3 linked regions of the Homo sapiens genome follow. The protein of the gene in region 2 interacts with the protein of the main gene of each other region in a pairwise test. Each region holds a gene or a part of one and is shown on either strand. Other genes may lie near its edges.

What was found. Proteins that work in one complex are often made in the same cells at the same time.
Region 1: the proteins of STK4 (region 2) and RASSF3 interact in binary tests that used the Homo sapiens proteins (3 or more experiments, as listed by UniProt).
Region 3: the proteins of STK4 (region 2) and RASSF6 interact in binary tests that used the Homo sapiens proteins (3 or more experiments, as listed by UniProt).

What each region holds. Positions count from the first base shown.
Region 1 is NC_000012.12:64,683,469-64,690,498, forward strand, and holds part of RASSF3 (ras association domain-containing protein 3), read left to right. Parts: intron 1-1,318; coding exon 1,319-1,426; intron 1,427-4,747; coding exon 4,748-4,985; intron 4,986-7,030.
Region 2 is NC_000020.11:45,074,512-45,080,551, forward strand, and holds the end of STK4 (serine/threonine-protein kinase 4), read left to right. Parts: intron 1-506; coding exon 507-665; 3' UTR 666-5,510; downstream 5,511-6,040. UniProt on the Homo sapiens protein: Stress-activated, pro-apoptotic kinase which, following caspase-cleavage, enters the nucleus and induces chromatin condensation followed by internucleosomal DNA fragmentation.
Region 3 is NC_000004.12:73,617,433-73,625,043, reverse strand, and holds the start of RASSF6 (ras association domain-containing protein 6), read left to right. Parts: upstream 1-4,607; 5' UTR 4,608-4,756; intron 4,757-7,611.

The sequences.
Region 1 (7,030 bases), on a different chromosome or scaffold from region 2:
GGGAGGTAGAGAAGTGGGTGAGACTGGAAGGGTGGGAAGGAGAAGTCTGGCTACTTGTATCTTGGCCTGGGGATTTGTTTGGAAGATGAATTATCCTCTGGTAGTTGTGTACAGTTTACAGGTCAGTGATTAGTATGAGTCCGTGAATAGTGCCAGTTAATACTGATTAACTGCTGTACTTTTTGCCAATAAATATTGTAAAGCTATAAAGACAACAGAGTTAATACAAGTTGCTAAAGAGAAACTTGTGGTAAATGTCTTTAAATGTTGTTTAAAATAGAAATGGCCAATCTAGCAGGCATGCTGAGGAAATGATGTTTTTGCAGAAGGGAAATTTAGCAATGACAGTTTTGCAGAATATATTGGTAATGAAGTGTTACTTGTAGCTGCTGACAAATTAGTTTTCTTAAAAAATATATCCCCTAGGAAGACTGTAGTATGAAAGAATGAGAACCGTAATTGGTGGATGAGCCTGGAGAGTTTGAAGGTAAGAGAGAAAGAGAAGCAGCGAGGGAGAGAAGGAGAGAGAGAGAGAGAGAGAGTGAGTGTGTGTGTGTGTGTGTGTGTGTTTCAAGGTAACATGCAAGAACAATAAGGTTCTTCTTGTGTGGTTGTAATTTTTTTTTTTTTTTTTTTGAGACAGGGTCGCACTCTGTCACCCAGGCTAGAGCATAGTGGCATAATTATGGCTCACTACAGCCTCGACCTCTGGGCTGAGGTGATGCTCCCACCTCAGCCTCCTAACTAGCTGCGACTACAGGTGTGCACCACTGTGCCCAGCTAATTTTTGTATTTTTTGTAGAGATAGAGTTTCCTCATGTTGCCCAGCCTGGTCACAATCTCCAGGGCTTAAGCTCTGCCGTCCTTGGCCTCTCAAAGTCCTGGGATTGCAGGCTTCCACCACCGTGCCCGGCCCTTGTGTGGAATTTTTAAAAAATCCTGACTTATCTGTTTGTTTGTTTGTTTGTTTTTTTTTTTTGAGACAGAGTTTTGCTCTTGTTGCCCAGGCTGGAGTGCAATGGCGTGATCTCAGCTTACCACAACCTCTGCCTCTCACGTTCAAAGTGATTCTCCTGCCTCAGCCTCCCAAGTAGCTGGGTTTACAAGCGTGCGCCACCATGCCCAGCTAATTTCGTAATTTTAGTAGAGACAGGGTTTCTCCATTTTGGTCAGGGTGGTATTGAACTCCCAACCTCAGGTGATCCGCCCACCTCAGCCTCCCAAAGTGCTGGGATTACAGGCGTGAGCCACTGCGCCCGGCCTATCCGCACTTTTTTTTATGATTGCTCACATGTGACATGTCTTGTTTTTCTTCTAGGATGTTGAGAAAGAGAAGGAAACCCACAGTTACCTCAGCAAAGAGGAGATCAAAGAGAAAGTTCATAAATACAACTTAGCAGTCACAGACAAGTTGAAGATGACCTTGGTAAGCACTCAAAATACTATTTAGGTTGACACCTGTCAAAAGACAAATATAAATTGTTGGTACTACAATCTATAGTTCTAAATATCTGAATAGCATTTGTAGAAGTGTAGTAGTCAAGGTATACAGAACAGGAAAGTGGAATATTTCTGTGGCTTTCCATTTAAATCTGTATTGTGAAGTAGCTTTGTCTCAAAAATCAGTTGCTGGGTTAACCTTAAAAAAGTGAAACACTTATAATTTTATTTTAAAAGATTTTGTGACCCACCCCTCCCTCCTCAAAGGATTTTTAGCATCATTGCCTAACATACAGAAATGGTGACTCAGATTCTAAGAAGACCTCAGGTAAGGTTTTTTGTTTTGTTTTGTTTTGAAACAAGGTTTTGCTCTGTCACCTGGGCTGGAGAGCAGTGGCACGATCACCGCTCACTGCAGCCTCGACCTCCGGGCTCAAGTAATCCTCCCACCTCAGCCTCCCGAGTAGCTGGGACCACAGGTGCTTGCCACCATGCCCAGCTAATTTTTGTATTTTTTGTAGAGACGGGGTTTTGCCATATCACCCAGGCTCATCTCAAATTCCTTGGCTCAAGGGATCTGCCCAGCTTGGCCTCCCAAAGTGCTGGGATTACAGGTATCAGAAGCCCCTAAGTTTTTGTCTTGTACAAAATAAATATGGAAGTGTCAGGGAAAGGATTTTGAGCCCATGGATTGGAATATAGAGGTATATAATAGGATAGTTTTCTCTGCCGGTCGTTAGTGTAAGACAAGGTACTTAATACTCAGTTTCTTCCACGTCGCTGTCGCAGGCTTCCACAGCATTGTGCCACACTGAAGCATGCAGGGAGTCGGCGTACAGGAGGGAGAAGCCTCAGGGCCTGGGGATAGGGAAACGAGCTGACAGCGGAGCTAGAGTATTCATGTTCCTCTAAACTTAGCTGGCATCTAGGTCTCGCCTACCCATTGGGTGGCCCGCCTTCTTCATGGCACTTGTCAGCCCTTGGCGCCAGTTTCCAGGGCACTTGGATCCCCGTCTCTCAGTCTGTTTACTGTGAACTGACAGAGTTTGGTAAAGGACAAGGTGATTGGTTTAAAACAGGCCCTACCGAATCGGTGATTCTTGGGGAGGAGCTTTCAGATAGAAACCCTTGTGGTAAAGGACCCCTCCCTGGTAGAACTCCTCCAAAAAGAGGGGAGAGGAGCAGAGAATCCCAAGATAACTCTTCATCATTCCAGCAGCAAGATTTCTTTTTCAAACACATTTTTTCATCAAAGGAGAAATCCACTTGCTATGTTTTTTTTTTTTCCTTTCCTGATAGAGACTAAAACAGATACAAATTATCCATGTCATTTTAAAGATAAAAATTTTAGGCTGGGCACAGTGGCTCACACCTGTAATCTCAGCATTTTGGGAGGCTGAGGCGGGTGGATCACTTGAAGTCAAGAGTTCGACGGTGGCTCACGCCTGTAATCCAGCACTTTGGGAGGCCGAGGTGGGCAGATCACGAGGTCAGGAGATCGAGACCATCCTGGCTAACACAGTGAAACCCTGTCTCTACTAAAAATACAAAAATTAGCCAGGCGTGGTGGCGGGCGCCTGTAGTCCCAGCTACGCGGGAGGCTGAGGCAGAAGAATGGCGTGAACCCAGGAGGCAGAGCTTGCAGTGAGGCAAGATCGTGCCACTGCACTCCAGCCTAGGCGACAGAGCAAGACTCCATCTCAAAAAAAAGAGTTCAAGGCCAGCCTAGTCAACATGGCAAAACCCCATCTCTCCTAAAAATAGAAAAATTAGCCAGGCATGGTGGCGGGTGCCTGCAGTCCCAGCTACTCAGGAGGCTGAGGCAGGAGGATCACTTGAACTCAGGAAGTTGAGGCTGCAGTGAGCTGTGTTCGTGCCACTGCACTCCAGCCTGGGTGAGAGAGTGAGACCCTGTCTCAAAAAAGAACAAACTAGAGAATTAGGATTGAAAATTGATCTTGTGGGAAGGAAGAAAAATAACACACCATAAAGATAGTTTTAAATGTTCTACTTTAACTGTGGCATTTATATGTAACACTTGACAGTTTAATAAAACAGTACAATAAATCTTTTCTAAATATACTGTTTTTGTTTGTTTTTGAGATGCAGTCTCTGTCGCCCAGGCTGAAGTGTAATGGCGTAATCTCGTAATCTCGGCTCACTGCAACCTCCACCTCTGGGTTCAAGAGATTCTCCTGCCTCAGCCTCCCGAGTAGCTGGGATTATAGGCACCTGCCACCACACCCAGCTAATTTTTTTTTATTTTTATTTTTAGTAGAGACGGGATTTCACCCTGTTGGCCAGGCTGGTCTCGAACTCCTGACCTCCAGTGGTCTGCTCGCCTCGGCCTCCCAAAGTGCTGAGATTACAGACATGAGCCACTGCGCCTGGCCCCAAATATACTGAATACAAAAATAAAAATAAAAAGTGAAGACCAAACTGTTATTACTGTTTTTGGCAACTAAGAAATAGTAATTCTACCATCAGTGAAGGTAGTTGTTTTTAAGATCTGTACTGTGAAGTATAGTGGTTTGAATTTGTTTTTTTTTGTTTTGTTTTGTTTTTGTTTTTTGTTTTTTTTTTTGAGACAGAATCTTGCTCTGTCGCCCAGGCTGGAGTGCAATGGCGTGATCTTGGCTCATTGCAACCTCCACCTTCTGGTTTCAAGCGATTGAATTTTTTTTTAAAATGCTGCTTAAGAGACCCGAAATGCATTCTATGCTGTATGGCATATATGCTGCATTAAAAAGTTTAAGCAGAGTTAGTAATTCAGTGCATATGAATATAGCCACTAGGAATGAAAATAGCCTGTTTTCTTACTGTCCCCTTGTTGTTGACTTCAGTATTTCAGAGCCCTAATTGTGACCTTCCTTTTGTGTATAATAGTCACCAGTTGAGGATGTTGTTTCCTTTGAGCCTGTAGCCTAGACATATCCCCCAAGCTTTAATAAGTTTTGTGGTTTGGCTAGCATCTGCTCCGTTGGATTGTAACCTCGCAAATGGACCCTGACCTTTTGCCAGTAGCTTCAGAGGCATGAGTCTGGGGCCGGCAGTCAGCCACAGCATCAGGAGGCTTCTTCAGTGTCCACATCTGCCCTGCAGACCTTGCCTCTGGAAGCACTTTGCCTGGTGTGTTAACCGCCCTCTGAGGTCATTCCTTTGGGGGCAATCTTTAGTGAAGTTCTGCCACAAACCTCAAGAGAAGAGAACAAAGGAGTGTTTCACCTTCCCGTTTTGTTTTGATATGCTTCTTCCCTAAAGTGCCACCATCCACCCAGCTAAGTGTGTGCTTCTCTCCCTGCTTCAGAATTCAAATGGGATTTACACTGGCTTCATTAAAGTACAGATGGAACTCTGCAAACCTCCACAGACTTCTCCAAATTCTGGAAAACTCTCTCCCAGTAGCAATGGCTGTATGAATACACTTCATATCAGCAGCACAAACACTGTCGGGGAAGTGATCGAGGCCCTGCTCAAAAAGTTTCTCGTGACTGAGAGCCCTGCCAAGTTTGCACTTTATAAGCGTTGTCACAGGGAAGACCAAGGTACGCTGCCAGCTTAAAAGGAAAATGGTCTGTGCTTCTACTTGCATCTGCTGTTCTCATTAGCAGAGGGAAGACTGGTGGGTCTCATCCATGTCAGTTGTGTCAGAGCCTGGAGTCCGATGCTGGAAGCCATGGTGATCTTAGCATGCACTTAGTGCTTCCTGGCTGTCCATATTTTTGAGTTGGACAGTTGAGGGTCTGAGGAGCTTGGAAGCATCCATATGTGATTGGCAGTTACGAGTATTTTGTGGTGTTGGTGGGGGGATGGGGCGGGGGCTGTTTTTGGTGGTTGTTAGGAGTGGCTTTGATTTTAGTTTTCTTTAGGACACAAAAGAGTGCCTCTGTGTTTGAAGTTTTCAATAGCACATTCCACATTTGATGTGCATCAGTACGTGGAGTGGTTTGGTGGATGTGTGCTGAGATCTTGCGACTGGGGAGGCACATGTGCATCACAGCACATTTCAGCGTACTGATGGAAACGGCCCAGCCCTGGGCTCTCCTGTTGCCTTAGCTTGTCTCACTTGGTGTTACGCCGGGACATTTTGGTACTCTGTCCCCCAGAGGCTCATCAAATGAGTGAATAACATTTTGATCTAGGGTCTGACTAAAACTTCATATCCACATTCAGGGGATAGAAAGAGAACATTAAATATTAAATTACTGCGTGAAACAGAATGAGATATTCCAGGTCAGGCAGTGACCAGAAATTGATAACATTGGTGGACAGTAGTGATTCAGTGACTCACTACATGCGATTTGAAATCGGGGTGTGTGTGTGTGTGTGTGTGTGTGTACAATAAACTATTTAAGCTTTCTTTGGTTTTTCTCGGTAAAGCCTAATGTAGCTATAGAAGAAAATATATTAACCTTGACATGATAGTAATGTTCTTCAGTTACACAGGATGAAACCCAGCTCATTGCTGAGTATGCATACATCTTTTTAAAAACAAACCATGGGGCTAGACCCTGTGGAATACAAAGATGAACAGGCCAGGGTTCCTACCTTCAGAGGTCACAAGCTTAGTATTGTGGGGGCTTATATCTATAGGGAAATTGGCACCTGCGATGCAGTGCATCTGGAAGTGCCACAATAATGTAGAGAAGCTCGATGGCATTTTTATCTGCCAGTTTCTTTGCCTGCTCACCTGGACTTTAGCTGTACAATCTGAAAGTAATCGTGACTTGTTGAAATATTACCCCCATGGCTGGCAAATCCTTTAACATGATTGGCAATGTCACTGTATGTGTGTGTCTAGCATGAGACATATATAGCTGTGCTTGAAGCTACCGGAGCTTATATTCTGATTGCTTGGTTTGTAGCTGCTAATTCGCTAATTCTTTTTTTTTTTTTGAGACGGAGTCTCGTTCTGTCACCCAGGCTGGAGGTGCAGTGGCGCAATCTTGGCTCACTGCAAGCTCCACCTCCCGGGTTCACGCCATTCTCCTGCCTCAGCCTCCCGAGTAGCTGGGACTTACAGGCGCCCGCCACCACGTCTGGCTAATTTTTTTGTGTTTTTAGTAGAGACGGGATTTCACTGTGTTAGCTAGGATGGTCTCGATCTCCTGACCTTGTGATCCGCCCGCCTCAGCCTCCCAAAGTGCTGGGATTGCAGGTGTGAGCCACCGCGCCTGGCCTCGCTAATTCTTAATTAATCTGTAGAGAGATTTGCTTTTAGAACTCTTGTTTTTATGTTCTTTGGATGGTATATACATTTTTTTTTAAATTTGTTTTTTGTTTGTTTGTTTGAGACGGAGTCTTGCTCTGTTGCCCAGGCTGGTGTGCAGTGGCACAATCTCGGCTCACTGCAACCTCCGCCTCCTGGGTTCCAGTGATTCTCCTGCCTCAGCCTCCCAAGTAGCTACAATTACAAGTGCCCACCACCATGCCCAGCTAACTTTTGTATTTTTAGTAGAGACAGAGTTTCACCATGTTGGTGGCCAGGCTGGTCTCAAACTCCTGACCCCAGGCAATCTGCCTGTCTCGGCCTCCCAAAGTGCTGGGATTACAGGTATGAGCCACCACGCCTGGCCTTGGTTTTTGAGAC
Region 2 (6,040 bases):
GGGGGTGTGGGAAGGCAGGGTTAGGGGATGGCATCTGCGCCTCATCAGCATCGATCCTCCATGGTGTCGTATCCTGAAAGTGGGAAAGGCGCTGTCCAGATAGACGCTTATCTCGTAGACAGAACAAGAACGGGGAGGCAACCATTATTTCACATACAGCAAGTTACTGTTATTTTAATGCCCTAACAATGAATCTATATTTAATTAACTTAAAAGATAGGGGAGGTGAGAGTATTATTCACTAAGTTCTTGGTCAAGGCACATTAAATCAAAGCGGTTAGCACTTAGATCTCTTCCAGGGATAAATTATCTCAGACAAGCTTCAAGGTATGCCATGCTTTGGAATGAATTGTCACTTTCCAACCACCACCACTCAACCTGTGATCTGACCACAGTGTCTTCCTCCTGTCTCCCTTCCCTCTGGGTGCCTGGGAAGGCTGGGCTTCTGCACTGTTCTGCCACTGACTTAAGCTTTGTCGTGACTATACCTTCCACTTCTCTTCTAGCTTAAGAGTTGGACAGTGGAGGACCTTCAGAAGAGGCTCTTGGCCCTGGACCCCATGATGGAGCAGGAGATTGAAGAGATCCGGCAGAAGTACCAGTCCAAGCGGCAGCCCATCCTGGATGCCATAGAGGCTAAGAAGAGACGGCAACAAAACTTCTGAGCAAGGCCAGGCTGTGAGGGCCCCAGCTCCACCCAGGCTTTGGGTGAATTCTGGATGGCTTGCCTCATGTTTGTTAGCCAGCACTTCTGCTCTGTCGTCTCTCCACAGCACCTTTGTGAACTCAGGAATGTGCGCCAGTGGGAAGGGCTCTCTTGACAGTCAGCGTGCCATCTTGATGTGTGTATGTACATTGGTCAGGTATATTATCTCAAAGGATTTATATTGGCGCTTTTAACTCAGAGTTTTAAACCCCAGGAACAGAGACTCCTAGTTGAGTGATAGCTGGGAAAGTTTTACATTGTCTGTTTTTCTTCTCCCAATAGCTTTCAATTGTTCTTTCTGGAAGACTTTTAAAAAAATATAAATATGCATATATATATATAAATTATAAATAGATTCCCCACGCAGTGTGGTGGCATCTCTGTACAGGTACAGTTTTAAACGGTTTGCCTCTTTTCTGTAAGATTATGGTACTGTGGAACATGAGGGCAGAGGACACCGGGAGGCTGTTAGGGGGTCACTGAATCCCAGGAGCCAACCTCCCCCTTTGCAGGGCTGCATTTAAAAATTAGGTTTGGGACAGTTCTTGTACCGTGGTTTCAGCCTTGTGTGGTCATCACTGGCTTCTGGAGCTATTGGTGATGTCCAAGGGAAAGCTTTGAGAGTTTATGTTTACTCTTTGAGTCCCAGGAGAAGCCTGGCACCCTCTTTGCAAATTGGCCTTTGCTCTTTCAATGCCTTTCATCCATCTCCACTCTCTCAACTGCCTAAAGTCACAGCACAGATACTGCCCAGTGCCTTAAGAGGAGACATGATCTCTACCAGGGACTCTCAGCAAACACGGGACTGTGTTCAGTCCACAAAGGAAAAGCGTTTTTGAAGCTCTCATTGTTCATGTAAAAATCATACACGTGGCATGTTGCTCCACATTCCTTACACACAGGGGTAGAGGGGATTGCTTTTGTGACCCACGTTCAAATATGTGACTGTTTTCTTTTCTCTTTTACTGCTAAGCAGCCTGGAAAGGATAAATGAATATTAGACTAAGATTTGTTTTCCAGGAGGCTCAATCTGAACACACAGAATGTCAGAGCTGGAAGGGACTATAGAGATCATCTGATCTGATCCTCTTGTACGGATGATCGCAAAACTGAGGTGTAGAGAGGGGAATGGCCAAAATCACAAAGCAAGTTAGCGTTAAGAGCTGAGACTAGAATTCAGGGTCCTCACTCCCAGGCCACCGAACCATGCAGCCCCTTCTTTGGGGGAAGAGACCTGTGTCAGTCTTGGTTAATTGTTCCAGGGAACCTTGCTAACAGAAACTTGCTCTTGCCTTGGCTCTTCAGTAGATGACCTGGCTGTAAAGAGATTCCCTGGACGAGCCAGATCATTCAGTTTCAGCGAGTCCTTGAGCTCCACAACATCTACCAGATATAGCAGACAAGCACCCATGGAGGCAGGTTTCGGGCCTGAAGCAGATCAGAGGGCTTTGCAAAAGACAGCATAGAGCCATCTTCCTGCAACTTTACCTCTTTCCCTCAGATGGGGAGCCATGACTGGGTTGCACCTCAGGATACTGTAATTTGACTCCATAATTGCTTTTGCTCCTGAAACCTGGGAATCAATGGAAAGGCAGGGAATGTGCCTCTTCTGTGGCCAGATTCTGTTATTTGCAATTAAAGCAAGTTTTTAAAAAATGCAAGAGGCAGTTGTTAGTCTTCAGGGCTTGGCAACTGAAATAGCTATGTGGCGGATACGGAAAACAGAGGACAATTTGAGGATCTTGCTGGAATAATAAATGACAGCTACCATTTGTTGAGCACCTATTATATATCAGGCACTGAGCTGGGTAGGCTCTAAACTTCACAATAACCCTGTGACTTAACTACTTTATCTCCATTTTGTAGTTGAAGAAATAAGTTCAGAGAGAAAGATTCCTTCCCAAGGTCATGCAGCTAGTAAATGATAGAATCAGGATTCATAGCATCACTATAGGGGGTCAATATTTACACAAAAAAGGAAAGTCACAAGCCTGTTTAAAATGAAGTGACCACCTTTTCTTGCATAGACTAAATAACTCGAACTGGCATTTTTAGGTTGGAAAGACAGCTGAATTAGTAGTTAAGTCTGATAGCCAAGTAAGTTTTAAAAACCAAAGCATCCAGGATGCACACCCCTGCACCATTTGCTGTGCGAATTAATAGTTCTGTCTCTCTCTCTCTTTCTTTTTTCTTTTTATTCTTTGAGATGGATTTTCGCTCTTGTCGCCCAGGCTGGAGTACAATGGCACGATCTTGGCTCACTGCAACCTCCGCCTCCCGGGTTCAAGCGATTCTTCTGCTGGGATTACAGCATATGCCACCATGCCCAGATTATTTTTTTGTATTTGTAGTAGAGACGGGGTTTCACCATGTCAGTCAGGCTGGTCTTGAACTCCTGACCTCAGGTGATCCACCCGCCTCAGCCTCCCACACTGCTGGGATTACAGGCATGAGCCACCGCTCCTGGCCTCTCTTTCTTTTTTAAACAAAGAACTTTGCACTTGGCCAGAGAGGAGGAGAAAGCCCATTTTCTCCCTTCCTAAGCTAGATCCAAATAAAAGAAAGTTCAGTTTTCCCCCATAACTATTCTTGGGTCATGAACTTTGATCTGGAGTTTGTTTTGTTTCAGGAATGTGTGCACCCAGCTTGCTGATCCAACAAAGTCTATTGCTTACCAGTCTAGCTTGATGAAGCCTTTTGGCCAGAAGTCAATTTGTTTTGGATCAGAGAAATTTCCTGACAAGGTATATTTGTTTTCTAGTGACAGAAAGGCAAAGGAACAAGTCCTAGTTGTTGTTGTTGTTGTTGAATACTAAATTTAAGATATGTCAGCTTGCTTTCAATGAGCCTTGGGCTTCTGTTATTGCTTGAGCATTTGGAACTCGAGCTTCCAGAGAAATTTGAGGTCCTCGCTTGTTCTCTGCCTTCAAGAAACAATGACCTGATTCTGTCTTTAAAAAAAAAAATCTCAGAATTCTTTTTTTGTTTGTGTTTTTTTTTTTTTTTGAGACAGAGTCTCACTCTGTTGCCCAGGCTGGAGTGCAGTGGCGCCATCTCGGCTCACTGCAACCTCCGCCTCCCAGGTTCAAGCAATTCTCCTGCCTCAGCCTCCCAGGTAGCTGCCACTACAGGTGCTGCACCACCACGCCCGGCTAATTTTTGTATTTTTAGTAGAGACAGGGTTTCACCATATTAGCCAGGTGGGTCTTGAACTCCTGACCTTGTGATCCACCCGCCTCGGCCTCCCAAAGTGCTGGGATTACAGGCGTGAGCCACCTTGCCTGGCCAAAAATCTCAGAATTCTTTAAGACTGTTTTAATTGCTCCATCAGTAATTTTGAAGCACTTTCCTTTTTTTTTTTTTTTCCCCTTTTTGTCCCTTTCCCCAAGCCACCAATTGGATGGATGAATGTTTGACGGGGAAGAGGAAGGGTAGGAGGATGCATGGATGAGTGGATGAGTGGATCGATGGATGTATTGATAAATAGATAGAACCAGTCATCTGAAGCAACTTAAGAATTGTAGCCTTGACTCCTTGAGACTGTAGATTTCGATCCAGGAAACATTTATTTAGCACCTGCCAGATGCCAGAAATTTATACCATTTAAAACTCAGTAAGTCTTTTAAATATCAGGAAGGAGAGAAGCGACATCATGATACATCCTATGGGTATTAAAAAGCCAATAGAATATTATGAATAATTTTATGCTAATAAATTTAACAACTTCAACATCATAAACAAATTCCTTGAAAAATAAAAAGTACCAAAATTCATTCAAGAAGAAATAGATACCAGCCTGAGCAACATGGCAAAATCCCATCTCTACAAAACATCAAAAAAAAAAAAAATTAGTCGGGCATGGTGGTGCACACCTGTAATCCCAGCTTGTCAGGAGGCTGAAGTGGGAGGATCACCTGAGCCCAGGGAGGTCAAGGATGCAGTGAGCCATGGTCTCACCACTGCACTCTAGCCTGGGTGACAGAATGAGACCCCGTCTCAAAAAAAAAGAAGAAGTAGATAATCTGAATAGCCCTATATCTATAGAAACTTAATAGTGCTGGGAGATATAGGTATTATTATCCTCATTTTACAGATGTGAAAATTGAGGCTCAGAGAAGTAAAGTCTATTGCTCAAGGTCATGTGGCTAGAATATGGCAGAGCCATGATTCAGATCCAGGTCTTCTGATTCTTATTCCAGTGTCCTTTCTAGCATACCATGTTGCCTCTAAAGATTGCAGCTCCTTATTTACTAGAAAATTGTTCCTGCCCAATCTACATCTCCACCTCACCCCATCTTTTCTTAAGCACTATGTTTGTGTTTTTATCAGTATTATATTCATTGTCTTTGGAATACATGTTCTTGTTTGTGTTTGGAAAAAAAATCTCTTTTACCAGCTTGCACTCGGACCAACTTGGAAAAAAAAAAGCTTAAATGTTTTTGCTATGTACAGTTTAAAAATGTGAAGTTTGTAGCTTTAACTTTTTGTAAGAAAATCTAATAACACTGGCTTAAGTGCTGACTTGAAATGCTATTTTGTAAGGTTTGGATGTAAGTAATCAATTGAGGTCAGCAGTTTGTATGAGACATAGCTTCCTCCATTGCCCCCACTCCTTTTTTCTTTTTTAAGTTTGAGATGCTTCCTGTGTTTTTATGTTAGAATTGTTGTTCTCCTTCTTTTCTTCTTCCTATACCTCATCACGTTTGTTTTAAATAAACTGTCCTTTGGACCACAAACCCTTATTAACGAGAACCTCAATATATAGCCTGGATAATGGTGTTGTGAACAATCTTTGTGACATTGACTCAGTGGTGTGTTTATTCTAAGATCCAAAGCTGGGGAGAGGTTGGTAAACTTTTGTTGGGCTTCTATTATGTGCCAGGGTACTGAGCTAGTTATCAGGAATATAATAAAGATGAACCAGATACAGTTTTTGCAGGGCATTTGGGGAGTTAGCCAAGCACAAAAACACACAACATTGAACATACCATGGTAGAAGAAGGTACAGGGCCTGTGGATACACAGAAGAGGGAGTGACGGTTCTGCTGGGATGTCCAAGGAAACTCTTCTAGAGGAGACAATATACCTTGAAACTTTAAAAATGAAGAAGAGATGGCTAGATTAATAAAGAGTAGGAAGTGAGGGAGAGAAGACATCCTGGACAGAAGAGCCCGCCTGTATAAAGCCTCTAGTGTGAGATGATCACCTTGGAATCCTTCATCCTCATCTGCTGCTGCACGAAGCCAGGCCAGACGTGGCCCAGCATTCAGAGGTGGAACAGCAGGTTCCTGCCCTGGTGTGGCCCATTCTTATCCAGGAATAGTTCTCCAGCCT
Region 3 (7,611 bases), on a different chromosome or scaffold from region 2:
CTAAAAGTTTTAAAATGATTTGTACATCAATTACAGCACTGTTTTAATTAAAGTTCTGTGTATATTTTTAAAGGAAATTTCTCCTCCCTTATTTTTCTCAACAAAGTTTTTTTTTTTTAATTAAATTTCTTGTCTGTTTTCACAGAAAAGCAGTATATGTTCCTCAATTGAAACAGGAAGTGACGGTTTATTCTTCAAGTTCAAGTTAAATGTTGGGATTTTCCAAAAATCTTAATCTGTTACGGTTGCTGTAATTTATTAAAATCTTTATGGCAAAAATTTCCAGTTGTAAAATATATTTATTTTAAGCTTTACACATCGGAAATGTAATTAACACATTGCCTCCTTGTGAAGGCCTGGCTTCCTCTTTAAGGCAATTTTCCAGCTAGGTTTTTACTGGGAGTCCCCTCATTGTTTGGAACTACACTGCCTCTGCTTCCTTTTTTCCTTCCCTAGCACATATTCTTTAAGTACAGCCTCAGATATGAAATGAAGTGTAAGGCAAAAAATATGTATGCCCTCAGTATTTGATAAAAGTGTCATTTCATATCAAGAAAGAGTGTGATCTACATTTATTTACTCAACGCTTATTTATTGTTACTATTTTTTCTTGACCCAGTGTTTCTTGACCCTCAGGGGACCACACATTGTTCTAGACACTAAGCATAGAGGAGTGAACCTACAAGTCAAGGTTCCTGATCTCTTAGCGTTTATATTTTAATGACAGGAGACATAAAATAAAGAGGTAACCCCAAACAATAAAACATAATTAGCTAATGATAATTGCCACAAATACAATAAAACAAGGTGCTATAATAGAGAAAGATCAGAAGTCTTCTTCGAATACAGTCGTCATAGGAAGCTTTTCTAAGGAGGTAATATTTGAGGAAAAAAACATAGTAATGAAAAGAAACTACCCATGACCAGAGCAAAGCTTTCTTGAGTGAATCAATAATAAATACAAACGCAGTGAGACAGGAAGAAGTTTAGTCTGTTCCAGAAATAAAAATTAACCAGGGTAGCAAGTTTAGAGTTAGTACCAAGGAAGCAGAAAATCAAAAAGGTCGAAGAAGCAGGGATGAGCCAGTCATGTGGGGCATTGTAGGGCATGGTAAGCAGTTCAGATTTAGATTTTATTCCAGATGTGCGGTGCAACCACTAGAAAGCCTTTAAACCAAGAAAATCAGAAGTGGTATTGTTGTCTGGATATTGCTTATAAAAGATTACGCTAGCCACAGGTGGAGAATGGACTGTAGTAGGATAAGAGGGGAGGCATAAAGCCCAGTTCGGAGGTCATTTGTGGTATCCAAGCAAGAGATGATGCTGGCCTGATGTAAGGTGGTAGCCATGGAGATACAACATCAGGACTTGCTCATTTACTGGGCGTGGAAAGAGGGAAAGAAAGAAATCAAGAGTGCTAGTTAAACATTTGATCTGAGCAACCATGGGCCTGCCAGTCACTGTGCTAAGCTTAGTGGTTAAAATAGAGGATAAGACATTATGAATTTATGAAGGTCCTTGCCTTCATAAATTTTATAATCTATAGTTATTTAATAAACATGACTCAGTTAACAAACTAATAACTTAGAAAAATTAAGTTAGATCTAAATTTCATGGTGTATTAACATAATAAAGTCTAGATGGGCTAAAATGTTCAATTTAATAAATAAATAATATCTAAATCTTAGAAAAACTAGAAGAAGCAATATATGTGCATTTTTACATTCTTTAAGGATGGGAAAGCTTTTATAAAACTGATGTAACTGATAAAGAAAAATAATAGATTCGACCATTTACATTTTTAAACTTTTATATGTCAAAAATACCATAGACAAGACTGCAAGGTAAACAAGTCACCTTGAAAATATAGTCACAGCATATATGATGAAGAGTTGATATGTTTAATATATAAAGAGAATTTATAAATCAATAAGAAAAAAGATGAGCAAAGAGTCCAATAAACAATAAAGCAAAAGTGCAAAGTCTAAAGAGCCCAAACTTACAAGTACGATAATATATATATTTAAAATAAGATATGGATTTTTTTATGTTTCAAATTAATAAATGTTTAAAAGAAGTATAATAACCCATGTTAGCTGCCCTGGGAGTATAAAACTGACAAAGATTTTTTAAGCAGGGAAATTCTTCAAAATGCACATTGCCTTACATCTGGTAACTTCAATTTTTGAAATGTATCTAAAAGGTGTAGTCATGCTTGTGTGGAATCATATGTAATCATTCACTGCAGTGTTGTTTATAACAGTATAACTTTATCATAATAATTAAATAAGTAACGGTATTTTCATTTGGTGCAATACAGAGCAGCTAGTTAAAATTACATTGCAGGAAAAAAAGTGACTGATTTATAGTAAATTGTTCATACTACGTTTGATGTGATGAAAGCAGGCTATAAACCAACAAACCAAATGTAATAGCATTTTGATAAACAGCCACAGGGAAAATAAGTCAATAAAGACATTCAACAAATTGTTTATGATGATTATACTTGAGAGATGGAATTATAGGTGCTTTTTGTCCTCTACATTTCTGTGTTTTTCAGATTTTCCACATTGCATATGTGCAATTATATACTTTTTATATTATCAAATAAAAATTACATATTTACAAACAGATAAAACACTAAAAAACGAAGTCACTAAGCCTCTAACTTTACTTTTCTTTAGAAAACCAGTTGGAAAGCAGTCATCAGAGTAAAAGTTTCCACAGCATCTGCCATTTAACAGTTTCTAAGCCTTTTTGGAGTCCTTTTGAAATTGGAGATATTGGCAAAAAACAAAGCCCCCAAATCCAATGCTTGCAGGTAAAAGATGCAAAAGAATGTTGCCCTGATGCTGACAATAAGCAAATGACCCACTTCAAGCACAGACAATGGAGGTGGAGCATGGATTTGAGCAAGATATCCTGGAACCGAGAGCTGTAACTACTCTAGGTCCTGCTAGTCATCATTCAAAGGTCAGTCCATACCAGCAGCCACATACCAGAGAGTTATGGAGCCAACATGATGATCGAATTAATATCTGCAAGTAATACTAAGTCACATCTGTCCTTACATAAGATTGTAAAATCTTTGATTGTGATCCAATAAAACCATTTGCTCAAATAATGATAAATCTGATAGTTCCTGGTCTCCGCACACCACAGATTAAATAGATAAACTGCCTAATATTTTTTCTTTTTTTTTTTTGAATCAGGCTGGAGTGCAGTGGTGCAATCTTGGCTCTCTGCAGCCTCGACTTCCCAGGCTCAAGTGATCCTCCCACCTCAGCCTCCCGAGTAGCTGGGACTATAGGCATGCCCCACAATGCCGGGCTAATTTTTTTTTTTTTTTTTGCAGAGACAGGGTTTTGCCATGTTGTCCAGGCTGGTCTTGAACTCCTGGGCTCAAGTGATCCACCAGCCTTGGTCTCCCAAAGTGCTGAGATTACAGGCGTGAGTCACTGCACCTGGCCTGCCTCACCTTTTGAACATATAGGATCTTACTTAAAGTGCTATGACAAACATGCAACCTGAACATCTAGAGTCATTCTGTTTGTCTGGCGTTTGAACACGAAAGATACTAGAAATTAACTCTGCCTGCTGAACTTTTTGCAGGAATCAGATTGAATTTCTTTTGAGGGCTCTCAGGTTTACACTTGTAAAATAACCTATTATGTTTAAAAATTATGAATAGTTGCTTTACATAGGAAACCAGTAAAATAACAATGATCCTTAAAAATCTGTGTGTGTGTGTGTGTGTGTGTGTGTGTAAATGTACTTCATATTTCCACAGCATCTGTCATTTAACAGTTTCTAAGCCTTTTTGGTGTCCTTTTGAAATTGGAGATATTGGATAAAACAAAGCCCCCAAATCCAATTCAGTAGATAATGACTAAATTATTATTTATCTCCTCTGTTTTGTTTCATTATGTTCATTTTCAAACTTTGATGTCTACCAGTTTCTTCTGTGGAGCTTATAAAAAATATAAATACCCGAAGTGTATGCATGGCCTACTAAATCAGAGTCTCACAGTTGATGGTACCTGGGTTTAGCAGAATACATAGGTGGTCCTGGTGCACCCTGAAGCGCGAAACGCTGCTCTGGGTGAAAAAAAGTGCTAGCAGGGAAATGTGTTAGCAAAATAACAAGGAAAAGAAAGTTAACAAATCTCAAATTGGAAAAGAAAAATCTTAAAAAGAAAGACGTGAATAATGGCGTTCAGTCTTGGTTGGTGTCATTTCTCACAGGCCAATTACCTACAGTCTGGGTGGACTAGAGAATAGAGATTAACATCAGTCAAATCCCGTGGTTAAAGCGTTAACTAGAATGTCCATTCATTTCTCAAGAAGTGTGGCAGAGAGCAAAGGAGTGTACCTATCAGCTGTTCCTAAGAAAGTAAACACTCCCAACATGCACTGAGGCACAGGGAGTGGCTCAGGTTTCTTGACACTTCCCTGCTGTGGCGAAAAGGAGAAATAATTAACAGCTCCTGGGGCTCCAGGATCGCTGATCGCGTCGGGGGCACTGCAAGCGCCCAGCTGAGCCATGCTCTGGGAGGAGACAGGCGCCGCCCCTGCGCCCGCGCGGGCCTCGGACCTCCCCTACAGGTGAGTGACTCGCGGAGTCCCAGCCCGGCAGAGACAGGGCACTGGTTTCCCTCTACCAGAGTTCCTGACCCAGCCGAGAACAAACCGCGAAGCAAGTTCAGCCGAACAACGATGGTGAAAAGGGTCCTCCTGCTCACAGTGTGAATAACAGGTAAAAAATGGGGATGGGGAAAAAAACTTTCTAATCCACTCCCTGGGGTCATGTTGAGGGCAAGTTATTAGAAAGCAGAATCCATAGGCAACAAAGTTAAGTGTGTGTGTGTCATAGCAGCCTGAATCGCACACATGCCTTTTCCTTTTGATTTTCTCAGAATATGCTTTCCTAACCAAGGTAAGCTTGTAGGGTGGGAGGGAGAGAGGGGAAAGAAGGGAGGGAAAGGGTGCAGAGAAGGGCTTGGAGGTAAATGTGACCATAGGACCCCTCCTCCCTTTAGTTCAATGAGCCCTTCACCTGTAATTGTGCCTGGCAAAAATCGTGCCTTACAAAGATACTAGACTTCTGGATGGCATACTCCTTCCTCTGAGTATCCTTATGGTTAGAATATTGTGTTGAATCATCGCACTGGAAAGAACTTAATTGAGGGTTCAGCTCAACTTTTATTTGTTTCTGCAAAGTGACAGAAAGCATGCCCCCCACCAAAAAAAAAATGAATTTTCAATATAAGCGCTCACCAAACAATGAAATAATAAACATAAATAATTAAATGGGAGTGCATGAGTTAAGGATATGAATTCTGAAGCAGAAGAGTGGTAGGTTCAAAGCTCGGCTTTGCCACTTATTAGTTTGCCCCCTCTCAAGTTTCTTAACCTAAGCCCCAAACGTTTGTCTGTAAAACAAGCATCATCAAAGGATCTGCCACATAAGGCTTTCTTTGATGGGAACTGAACAGTCAGCAAGTGTTCTGTAAGTGATACCTACTGTTAGCATTAAGAATAAGCTGCTCTGCCAAAGGGGCCGTTATCAGGGAGGGCAAGCTGAACTAGGGAGACCAGACAGTGTGTATTAGGATGCTGGAATTGAACTGGTTCCCGGAGACTGGATCCAGGACAGGCAAGCAGGTGACAGGTGTGCTAGGATCATCTCTCTGGGTAGCAACGAAATGACCTGGCTTCTTTCCATTTTTCAGATAGAGTATGTGGTGGCAAATTCAGACATATTTGCTACTCAATCAGTTTTCTTTTGAAAAATTCACATTTACATTAATCTGTTATTCCTAAAAAGAAAATAGAATTTTAGAGTAAGAGAGTTACACACAATCTCATATTGTGGAATTCATGCCATTTGGGTTTTATAAAGGAGACTGCTTTTGAATAACTTTCATCAATTTAGACCATATAATCCATGTCTTTATATTTCAGCACATATTGAATTGTTTGTATTGAAGTGCTGTTTTTAATTTGTGTTGATGGACAAGAGACATGAAGGAATAATACTTGTATTTTGTCAGTCTCTACCTCTTAAGCTTAAATTACAGGAAAGTGGCTTTATTTTATGAAGTTTCACTTAAAGGGCACTTTTGTCAATGTTGTTAGTTATTAATGTTGCTAATTTTCTTGAGGGGACCAACTTAGTGTCTATGACTAGTAATTTCCATTGACTTCATTTTTATCTTGTTATTTTATTAAATAAAGCAGTCAAAGAGTTTGCAGTATACTCTAACTTAATATCATTGGTGTTTTAATGGATTCTTTTTTCAAATTGCAGAGTTGAAATTCTTCAGTGTGCTTACAATTAGATATTGACTGGAGAATTGTGGATAGAATTCTAAACCCAACCTAACTGAAGTTTACTATGTTATTTCCCTCTGGGGTCTGATTGTGTTTAGTACAGTTTAGCTAAAAACTTATAAAGGAATCAAATTGAATTAGAATAAGTTAGGGTTCCAATATTCATTAAAGATTTTTCAAAGAGGAAATATGCTTTTATGCTGAATTTCCATATTGTTATACATCCTTAAACAAAGTTATTTGCCTTTATATTTATTGATAGACATATGTCTAAATAAAGAATAGTAGCCCCAATTGAGATAAATTTATTTAACCATATTTGAAATTGATTTGAGATTAATCTACTTAACCGTAACTGGGTGGAAGTCTTTCTAGTTAAAATCTGTTTAGATAGATAGATAGATAGATAACAACTTTATATCTATACATTAGAATATTGTGTTGAATTTACATTTATTCTACTATTTCTCACGTGTATAACATTTTATTATAAACTATTAAATGTTGTGGTCAATCAGAGAGAGAGAGAAAGAGAGAAAAGAGTGACACAGAGAGACCCAGCAATGATTACGAAAAAATTAACTTTTCCAGTTATATTCAAAATAGTGTAACATGTATGTAACAAGTCTTTTAAGCATGTAATTAAAAGTTCTATACCTGATTCTTGTTTTAATTTCCTAAAATAAGAAGGATCCTTTACTTTTAACTGAGATAGAAACCCAATGCTGACAGTCCATTTGCTTATATAGATTCATTGATTGCAATGTAGGTGGGGAATTCACGGTTACTAGAGTTACATGGGCTTCATATAAAAGCTTAGATTTTTAAAATATTCAAGTATAGGCCATTTGAAAACAAAACCTCTGAGAAAGGAATTCTGAATATTTTCCTTTCACATTACAGTTAGAGAGTTATTCTGTTGCAAAAATTAATTTGTATGTTTAAAATGATAAATTATAGTGATTTCATCACTTTCATAACATAATCTCAACAACCAAACTTAACTAATACCACTGCTTTCAGGAGTAGAACATGAAGTGTCTCCTATTTAAGTAATAAGGATGTTAACTTAAAGGAAAACTTCATCATCACCTAGAGCCTAGTAAAGGAGCTTAAGAGGAGAGAGTGTCGATTCTTTTGCAGCAAATATACAAACAGGAAAAATGAGTCGTGATCTTTGTGACGTCAGCCTAAGAATTTCTACTGGGAAGCTCAGGTGAAGCAGAAAATTTTTGAGTTCCACCACACCAGTAATTCCAGAAGATGCTGTCGGCAGAC